Linked DNA regions of Homo sapiens: region 1 is linked to region 2. The links come from fine-mapping of genetic effects on gene expression. A gene starts in region 2. The other region holds a variant in brackets. All regions are shown on one strand. Distances are between the middles of the regions. Region 1 has its middle 4.0 kb from the start of H1-2. Region 2 holds the start of TRIM38 (tripartite motif containing 38).

Evidence for each region. PIP is the estimated chance that this variant, and not a neighbour inherited with it, causes the effect.
Region 1: its variant is the best candidate, but not a certain one, in a credible set for the expression of TRIM38 in whole blood (TOPMed, PIP 0.76).

What each region holds. Positions count from the first base shown.
Region 1 is chr6:26,057,767-26,063,153 of GRCh38, forward strand. No RefSeq gene overlaps it. Among named protein-coding and RNA genes, the nearest start is that of H1-2, 4.0 kb to the left of the region's middle. The variant A/AC (reference allele first, on the strand shown) is at 2,539.
Region 2 is chr6:25,960,436-25,965,822 of GRCh38, forward strand. TRIM38 (tripartite motif containing 38) reads left to right here and starts at 2,367. Exons shown (of 8, transcript NM_006355.5): 1 at 2,367-2,420; 2 at 2,614-2,847.

The sequences.
Region 1 (5,387 bases), 97 kb after region 2:
TCTTGAGATTAAAGGCAAAGTAAATTGTCTGCCCATATATTTGATATAATTATAGATTCATATTTAGGGACAAAGGTAATATTACAACTCCCCAACAATTTCTGCTCAAATATATGTTTTCATGAAAATATGTGTTAAAGAGAACAGCCTTAGATTGTGGGAAAGTCAAAAGGGAACCTACAAATAAGAGTTCAATGACAAATGAAAAGTGAAACATCTTTTAGACTAAGGGTGACCCCATTGTTTTATTAAATAACATTTGTCCAACATTTGTAAACATTGTCTGCTTGTGTGCTTATGTCCTCTGGGAATTAACAGTCTAATGAGATTAGTGATGGATGAATTAGCAGTGGTGGAAAAACACTTAGACCGGCTATTCCTCAGAGTGACAGGGTATAAGAATTATACAAAATTATGGAAAGTGTATAAACAATTGAAGCACCTGCATCATACTAATATATTGTAGTAAAAGAAATAATATAAGGCTGGGCCCCGTGGCCCACGCCTGTAATCCTAGCACTTTGGGAGACTCGGGGGCGGATCACCTGAGGCCAGGAGTTTGAGATCAGCCTAGCCGACATGGTGAAACACCATCTCTACTAAAAGTACAAAAATTAGCTGGGGGTGGTGGCACTCAGGAGGCTGAGGCAAGGGAATCGCTTGAACCCGGGAAGCAGAGGTTGCAATGAGCCGAAATGACGCCACTGCACTCCAGCCTGTGCAACAGGGTGAGACTCAGTCGAAAAAAAAAGAAAGAAAGGAACAATATAAGAACATGTCACTTAGGCCAGGCTTGGTGGCTCACGCCTGTAATCCTAGCACTTTGGGAGGCTGAGGCGGGCAGATCGCCTGAGGTCAGGAGTTCGAGACCAGCCTGGCCAGCATGGTGAAACCCCATCTCTACTAAAAAAAATACAAAAATTAGCCTGGCGTGGTGGCAGGCAACTCTAATCCCAGCTACTCAGGAAACTGAGGCAGGAGAATCATTTGAACCCGGGAGGTGGAGGTTGCAGTGAGCCGAGATTGCCTCGTTGCACTCCAGAAGCCGAGATTGCCTCATTGCACTCCAGAAGCCGAGATTGCCTCATTGCACTCCAGCCTGGGCAACAGAGCAAGACTCCATGTCAAAAAAAAAAAAATAAAATAAACATTTCACTTAGATCTTATTCTATGTGCAATGAACCCCCTTCTCATTTAAAACTCAGCTAAGTATATCCATCATGAAAATAGCTATGAAACGTCTTGATTACCAGGTAACTGGACCTTCTTTCACTATAAATTGGTGTCCTGGTTTATAAATCGACATGTAAATTTAATCGCTGTGATTCAGTTCTCTAATATGATTTTTCTAGTCGACTCAATCTAATCACATCTCTTTATATGCAAATCTCAAGTCCAGACCTCAAGCCATTAGGACATCCAGCCACCCAGAATCTTGTCCCCAACCTCCTGGCAACATGGTGGAGGCCAGAAGACAGAGAAACATGTAACCAACCCTTTTCTAGATCCTTTATAAAGTGTGTTGAAAAAGTTATGCAAAACTTAAAAGCAACGCAAAAATATTTCTCCATATCCTTCCAAGCTATATTAGAGAATTATCTAAAAAGCCTACTTATGGGGTACCTGATGATGTAAGGCAATACTAGACAGTAAAATAGAATGTGAATCACATAAATACTTTCCAGATTTCTAGTGGTCACATTGAAAGAATGAAAAGAAACAAGTAAAATTAATTTTAAGATATTTTATTTAACTTAATATATCTAAACTATTATCACTTCAACATATAATAAATAAGCTAAAAAAAAAGACAGTTGACATTCTTTTTTAAATGATAAATCTTCAGAACCTGGTGTGTATTTTACACTTTTAGAACATTTTAAATCAGTCTAGCTATAGTCCAAATGGTCAATGATCACGTGTAGCTAGTGGTACCTTATTGGACAACACTGTCCTACGTGAAAGTAACTCTGACTTAATGTTTACATTTTATTGGGTCCAGACTATCTAAAAGTAAACATTCACTTGTAGAAGTTTAATAAATTAATAAGGATTTTGTCATAGAGATGGAAATGAATTCTTAATATAGAAAAAATGACCCTAAAAGTTATTATTGTATTGCCTAATAAGTCATTAAACAACTTTATATCTGATTTTCCCTTCCTCTTCCAGTATACATCCTTTCCCTGACCAAATACATATTTTATTCTCCCGTATCTTCCTTTGACCTAATTGTGATTCTGCTTCCTCCTTCATTAATGAATTAAATCATTCATTGACACATACACAAGCTCACTATATATAGTACATATATGTCAGTCATGTTTTTAACTTCCTGAATGTTGTACTTTGACACTTGGTTGTTCAATTTCGCCTAAGAGCTCTGAATCAGAACCTTTAGAAGCCATTCTGAAAAACTGGAAGATACAAAGCTTTTGACTATCAACTCCATAGCAACCTGATATCTGGTTGGTGTTCCATGGAAACTGTATTTCTCAAATTTTGAAATAAGATTGAACAAGCCTGTGAGCAACAACA[A/AC]AAAAAAAGTCTATTAGAATGACCTCTGGCCGGGCGGGGTGGCTCACGCCTGTAATCCCAGCACTTTAGGAGGCTGAGGTGGGCAGATCATGAGGTCAGGAGTTTAAGACCAGCCTGACCAACATGGTGAAATTCCGTCTCTTCTAAAAATACAAAAATTAGCTCGGCATGGTGGCGTGCATCTGTAATCCCAGCTACTTGGAAGGCTGAGGCAGGAGAATCACTTGAACCCAGGAGGCGGACGTTGCAGTGAGCTGAGATTGCGCCACTGCACTCCAGCCTGGGTGACAGAGCGAGACTCTATTTCAAAAAAAAAAGAATGACCTCCAAGGGAAAGTTCAGATTAAGGATGTGGTCGTCCCACCCAAAACTGATGTCCTCAAGAAAGCCACAAACAAATTGAGGACACAGTTAAAATATTGTAATGCAATATATTGTGTATTCTTTTATTTACACACACATCATAAATATTATAGGTTGACTAGTTTTGTTTCATGCCACACTCTTCAGGGTCTGGAAACCCTGGTAGAAAAGTTAAAAATGCAGAGCAAAATGTCAAGTCCAAACAGCAGTAATGGGGCTAGAGAGAGACTCAAACAGCCAAGATATATTCAAAGGATAGTGAGAGGAGTTGTTAGGACAGGTGTAAGGAATGAGGGTGACAGCTGGTTTTTCTTTCACTTTTTCCTTCTACTATGCCAATTAGAGTTCTTTGTTTTTGATAGAGACAGGGGTCTCACTATGTTGCTCAGGCTGGTCTCAAACTCTTGGCACCAAGTGATCCTCCTGCCTCAGCCTCCCAAAGTTTTGAGATTATAGGTGTGAACCACCAAGCCCAGCCTTAGAGTAGGGTTCTGTCATCTTTTGGATGTAGCTAACCTAATATTACTAAATCCTGTATAGGCCAGAACTTTGAATGATTTAAAGCTGTTTTTTCCTGACTCACCAATTAATGAAGCTAATAATAACAGCCACCCCACTGGCAGTGCCTGCCTCAAAGAGTAAGTGTTAGTGTTGCTATCTGCTTGAGACCAACAATACAGGGACTCCAGGATATTTTCAGCCTAAATAAGATTGTAGGGGCTCTTGTCTGTTGCCTGGCTTCAGCCCCATAAACTTTTTTTTAACATATAACCCAGAGCCACAGTTTTGCTCATATTTCAATCTTTGAAGGCAAATGGCCAACAATTAGATTAAACCTGAGGCTAAATATTTCCTCACCTCAAGGGCTGAGACGAAAGTTACTGCATCTGTATTCCCTAACACGCCCTCAAAATGGGTTGCAGAAAACAACAGAAAATATACTAAAGCACACAGTAGGAGCATAATAAATAGTGATTAGCTGGGTGCAGTGGCATGCGCCTGTAGTTCCCGCTACTCTACTCATGAGGCTGAGGCAGGAGGATCACTTTTGCCAAGCAGTTTGAAGTTGCAGAGAGCTATGATCACAACACTTCACTCTAACCTGGGCAACAGAGCAAGACTCTGTCCAGAAAAATAAATACATAAATATAAAATTTAAAAATATAAATAAATACATAGAGAGTATTACAAAAGGAACAATATATTGCAAAATATATTTACCTAACATTTTGAAATTGCCATTATAATTGTATAAGTGACATAGGAAACTGGGTCATTAACAGCTATCTTATTCTTCAAGCTTCTTTCAAATGATGTCAAAGCATTTCAGAAAGTCAAACCTACCCTCAAAGGATAAGAATTTGTCAATTGTGAGGATATGCACATTTTTACACCTTCTCAATCTGTGTCTATATGAAGGCAGTTATAAAGCACAAGATGCAAACGTATATTAGGCAATAGTCTTCATCAGAATAAGTACATAACCTGACACAATGACTATATTGGAAGAAACATGGAAATGCAAATTTCAATAGATTGGTTGACATTATTTTTTAATGTCTAGTTTTTTACTGTGCTGTGTTTTTACACACTTAATGAGCACTTGTTAAGCACAGGACACCAGGAGAAATAATAAAAACTAAGATCAGCCTAGCAGTGTGTCCTCTCAAGAACTTATACCTGGTGGGACAGATACAGACAAATATAACCATCATACAGTGTGAGAAATCGATAGAAAAGACACAGCCACTGAGAGCACAAAAGAATAAAAACATAAAATGTTAATGTGCTGGCTAAACGTTTGCCTTCAAGTATTTACCAGTCTAGCTGGGAAAATAAGACAGAAGACAACAGCCTAAAATAGTGGTTCTTAAACATTTAGATATCAGGACTTCTTTACACTCCTAAAAACTATCAGGCCTCCAAAAAATATTTTGCTAAATATAGGCATTTATCACTTTGGAAAACAAAGCTGAGTATTAATTATTTAATTATTTATATTAATATTTATTTGATAACCTTTAAAATATTATAAAATTAATATTTATTTATAATGCATATATGTGATTATATAGTTCATATGTAGCCATATATTTATCATATATACCATAGATTTATGTTATATATTACATATGTATGAAGAAAAAATGGAAAGTAAACCCAAAAGTTCCCCATTCCCTAACCCATTCAAAACCCTGGAAGTCCCAGGCTAATCTGAAACTTGTAAAACTGCCTGCATGTAGAGAGCACAGCTGAGCTGGTAGTGTGGAAGAGCAGAAAGACAGCAGTTCTGGAGCAAGGAAGCTTTATATTTAATCCCAGTTTCTCCATTCATGAGCTTGGTTACCCTGCCAAGTTCCTTCTCTGTAAAATGGGAATAATACTCCCAGAAATACAGTGAGGATTAAATTAGATAATGTGCATACAGTTCCTGGGATTGGGATCAGCACACAGTAGCCTCTCATTTGAGGCATATTTGCATTAGA
Region 2 (5,387 bases):
CTAGCTTCCTTTTCCTGATCCTTTGATAGTGTTACCAGAAAGGGGGTCCCAACCCAGACCCTAAGAGAAGGTTCTTAGATCTCGTGTGAGAAAGAATTTGGGGCAAGTCTACACAGTAAAGTGAAAGCAAGAAAGTAAAGGAATAAAAGAACGGCTACTCTACAGGCAGAGCATCAGCTTCTGGACTAAGGATACTGATATGGTTTGGCTGTGTCCCCACCTAACTCTCATCTTAAATTCCCACATATTGTGGGAGGGACCTGGTGGGAGGTAATTGAATCATGGGGGCAGGTCTTTCCCTGAGTAATTTATACTGCTGTTCTCATGATAGTCAATAAGTTTCATGAGACCTGATGGTTTTATAGAAAGGAATTTCCCTGCACAAGCTCTTTGCCTGCTGCCATCCATGTAAGACCTGACTTGCTCCTCCTTGCCTTCTGCTGTGGTTGTGAGGTCTCCCCAGACACGTGGGACTGTAAGAGCATGAAACATTTTTTCCTGGTATAAATTACTCAGTCTCAGGTATGTCTGGATCAGCAGTGTGAAAATGGACTAATACAGATACTTACAGTTATTTCTTGATTATGTACTAAACAAGGAGTGGATTATTCATATGTTTTCTGGGAAAGATGTGGGCAATTCCCAGAACCAAGCGTTCCTCCCCTTTTTAGACTATATAGGGTAGCTTCCTGACATCGCCATGGTATTTATAAACCACTATGGAGCTGGTGGGAATGCCTTCTAACTTGCTAACACATTATAATTCGTGTATAATGAGCAATGAGAATGACTAGAGGCCACTCTTGTTGCCATCTTGATTTTGGTGGGTTTTGGTCAGCTTCTTTACTGCAACCTGTTTTATCAGCAAGATCTTTATGACCTGTGTCTTGTGCCAACTGCCTATTTCATCCTGTGACTTACAATGCCTAACTTCCTGGGAATGCAGCCCAGTAGGTCTCAGCCTTATTTTACCTAGCCCCCATTCAAAATGGAGTCATTCTGGTTTGAACACCTCTGACAATAGGACAGATCTGGAATGAGCCATGCCTGGGTACAGAGTCACATCCACAACAATGAAAGTTGTAGATATCTGCAAGGACTCATCGTGGGACCAAGGATTCAGGGGCTCATTCTTTCTCCTCTCTCTGTGTGCTGGTTGCCTCAGGAGTAGAATGTCCCATGCTATGCATGGGGTCTGCAACCATCATGCCAGGGCATGATGAATCGTAGGTGGCAAAACAACAGAAGGCTCTGTGAGCACCCAGGAGGGTGCAGTGCTGAAGAGTCTTCTGCTTGGTATAGGAAGAAAGGAACGTGTTTCCCAATCTTGCCTTTATTTTGAGTAGTTGGACCAGAGGGATTGCAGCTGGGCCAAACTCCATGTTCCATTGGCTATCAGGGTCAGCAGGCAGGCCAGGGGCCCAGACAGGCCAGTGGCTCCCAGAATTCAAGTTTAATTTCTCCTCCCACCTGTGTCCTGAGCTCCCCTTACTGGTTCCCTTGGACCACTGCATCTACTTAAGCCAGCATTTATTATGTTGTTATCATAAATGCCTCTTACACCTGAGACTTATAAATGTGACAAGCTCTTATTGTGAGATAGTAATCCATCTTTTTTCCCCATGAAATAATAATTCTAACGGGTGGTGATAGTACTTTTCCTTTCATTTTGAAGTGGAGAAGCTGGAGCTAAGTCATTAAGGACTTGACCCTGGACCCCACAGCCTTTTCTCCACAAAGCACAAAGCAGAGTGATGGTCCCAGGGATCCCACACAGCTCTAAGCTGGGGGCACTCACTGCTGGGCCACTAGTGACTCCCATTTTCTATCCTGGCTGACCCTCGCTATTGAAGAAGATCTGAGTCCTGCAGAAGGACAGCAAGGAGAAAAACAAGACACAGAACGGGACAGAGAAGAATAGAAAGCTGACTCAGATGAATTTTGTGATGCCAATGAGTCCTACTGCTGTTACCACCCCTTTTTCCACCACACCCTTCAGAGCAGTTATAGAACCACAAGCAACCCATAAATAGCAAAAGAAGTAACATCAGCTAGGAAGGCTTAAGGACTCCCAAGGGAGTTGGTGGCAAAAGTAGAAAGATCTCAAATCAGAGTCTGTGAACTGAACCTCTGCAGGCTTCCTGTTTTTAGATACTCTGTGTTGGGGTCACATGATAGTTTACAGGGTTATTAATTGGTTCCTTCTTTTTATTGCTGTAAAAGAAGGATATTTTCTTCCTACGTTTCCCCCTCCTTTACCGGAGAGGCGGAGTGCAAATGATATGAACAACGTCACTAGTTTTCTCCTAAATCTTATGAGCCCCGCCTCCCACAGTAGTTTCACTTCTCAGTTTAATCCGGTCTGAGTTAACTTCCTGACCCAGGAAGTGGCAGCAACAGAGGGGACTAGCAGCGAATATGTAAGTGTCTGAGCAGTGAAGGTTACGGAAAAGGTCCAGGCTAAGGTTTTCTCAGTGGATATGTGAGTGTGTACTGATGGCAAGTGGGGTGGGGAATATATTTCGTGACAGCAGGGCCCCTCCAACTCTGAAAATGGTCAGGACTTTCTTTGTTTTACAGCTCTCACCTCTTTCCTGCTCTTTCTTTCACCAGACTTTACACCAAATCTCAGAAGATTCAGAACTTAGATGAGTGGGGCCCAGGACAGGAACCCTGGAGCCTTGGAAGGAGGGGAGCCCCATCTCCCCAGAAGAGCAGTGACCCCAGCAGAGAGGGGCCTGGTGTATCACTGGAGGAAATAGCCTGCCAAGGAATACACGTCTTCAGAAGAAATTCTGTGTGGCTTCAAGAGACTGATCAAATTGTGAGAGGAAAACAGCCTACCCGGTAATTGTAGTTAAATTACTGTTTTTTATTCTAGGCACTCTTCAAACTTCCTCCTGACTCTGCCCCTGTCCTAGAGGAGCTCCCAGGAGTAGGGGTGTGGGGGCGGGCGGGGGGGAGGGATCGGGGGTACAGGGAGAGCCCAGCTAGGTTCTCAGAAGAGGCAGGCTTTTTCGCTCCTGGTCACTCCTCTGTTGCCTATCCCTGGCCTCCCCCATCTTCTTTCTGCCTTCCCTACCTCCTTGGGTCTGCAAACTCTTTATGTTGCAATCACTCTGAACATGTCTCTTGAGATAGGTCCTGTCCTGGAGAAGAGATAGTAAAAGTAAACTCCCCAGTTCTGCAGGAGCTCTGATCCCATAGAAATAACTGCTCCTCAGGAGCAAACCCTCTGCTCTGCAGCCTTCTTTCCAATTCTTATTCCCTCAGTTTAGGGAGAGGGCACAAAAAGGATAAACCGGTTCTTCTGGTTGTTCTGGTTGCCTTGATTGCTTCCATTATCCTCCTGGTTGGGTCTCTAGCAAGACGTTATTAGCCAGGGAAGTCCCACTTAGGCACCCCTCTCTGCAGAAGAGGTATTCACTATTCTCCTTTCTCTTTCTTTTGCCTATTATACCTCTGCTCCTGAAAGCAAAAACAACAACAACAAAAACACAAACAAAAAACAACCGACCTTATTAACCAGTGTTGGTTGTTGTTCTTTGTGGGGGATGGGGGGGGTCGAGGTGGAGTCAAATTTTATTGTCATGATGGTGTAGGAGCCAAGGGAACACTTCCCCTTTGCCTTCTGAAGTTCACTGAAAAATCGACTCACAAAAGGCAGGCTAATTGGAGAAAAGGCATACAAATTTATTAACAAGTACATGGGCTAGAATCACAGAGTGATTACCCCCTCTGCCAATGGGGGTAGATACTTATATAGCCTTATTTATAAATACTTATGTATAAATACATAAATATAAATATGTATGCATATGTATGTATGTATAAATATGTATGTATACTGTATAAATATGTATGTATAACGTTTATACATGTATACATATTTATTTCAGAGGGGAAGGGTGATATCAGGAGAATATAGGTAATTCTTTGAGGGGCAGTAAATGATTACTAGGGAGAATAAATGAATATTTGGGAGGATGAATGAATGGAGGAACAGAGTTTAACTTGTAAATGGTTCTCTTTGGAAAATGAATGAGCCTGAGAGACAGACATTATTTTGTGAAAGTGTCTGATTAGGTCTGGTTACATTCTTAGTCCTCTTTTCTTCAGTACAAAATGAGATAATAGGGGTTGGAAGGAAAAACAATTGTTCTTCTTGTCTAGTGTGACTGGTCTTTATGTAGATAGGGGAAAAGTCTCTTCCAGCATCTGCTGATCTCTAAGGGCCTTTAATTCAAAATACTCATTATACCAGGGAGTCATATATTGGGGTGAAGCTCCCCATACTCCTTCAATGGAATCTGTCACAGATCACCCAATTGCATAAGTGTTACTACTAATTACAAAGAGTAATTCTGGTACCAATTATTCTTTTTTTTTTTTTTAAGACAGATTCTCGCTCTTTCACCCAGGCTGGAGTGCAGTGGTGTAATCTGGGCTCACTGCAACCTCCCCCTCCGGAGCTCAAGTCATTCTCCTTCCTCAGCCTCCTGAGCAGCTGGGATTACAGGTGTGCACCACCACATCTAGCTAACTTTTTGTATTTTTAGTAGAGATGAGGTTTTGCCATGTTGGTCAGGCTGGTCTCAAACTCCTGACCTCAGGTGATCTGCCCGCCTCGGCTTCCCAAAGTGCTAGGATTACAGGCGTGAGCCACCGTGCTGGCCTGGTAACAATTATTCTTGAAGTTAACTAGAATAGGAAAGAGTTTCACACTCCCTGAGTTCTCTCTTTTACAGCTTTTGTGAGGAAGCCTGCATTGCTTCTCCCAGCACTTGGTCCAAGGTAACTTTCTGTGATAACAGAATGTTGTATATTGAGGCTGTTATGTAGCCACTAGTCACATGCAACTATTAAGCAATCAAAATGTGGCAACTGGAACAGAAAAACTGAATTTTTTCATTTTAATTTTTATTAAGTTAAATTTAAATTCCTACTCATGATAGTGGCTACTGTATTAGCTATACAGCTAGATGTTTGTGTATCCTCTAAATTCCAATGCATTTCTTCTTTCTGGAGAGAAGACTTTAGCTGGACATGGTGGCACATACCTGTAGTCCCAGCCACTCTGCCAGGGTGAGGCAGGAGGATTGCTTAAACCCAGGAGGTCGAGGCTGCAGTGAGCTGTGGTCATGCCACTGCCCTCCACTACAGCCTGGGCAAGAGAGCGAGAACTTGTCTTATAAGAAAAGAAAAAGAGGCTGGGCACGGTGGCTCATGCCTGTAATCCTGGCACTTTGGGAGGCTGAGGCGGGTGGATCACAAGGTCAAGAGATCGAGCCAACCAACATGGTGAAACCCCATCTCTACTAAAAATACAAAAATTAGCTGGGCGTAGTGGTGCACACCTGTAGACCCAGCTACTACTCGGGAGGCTG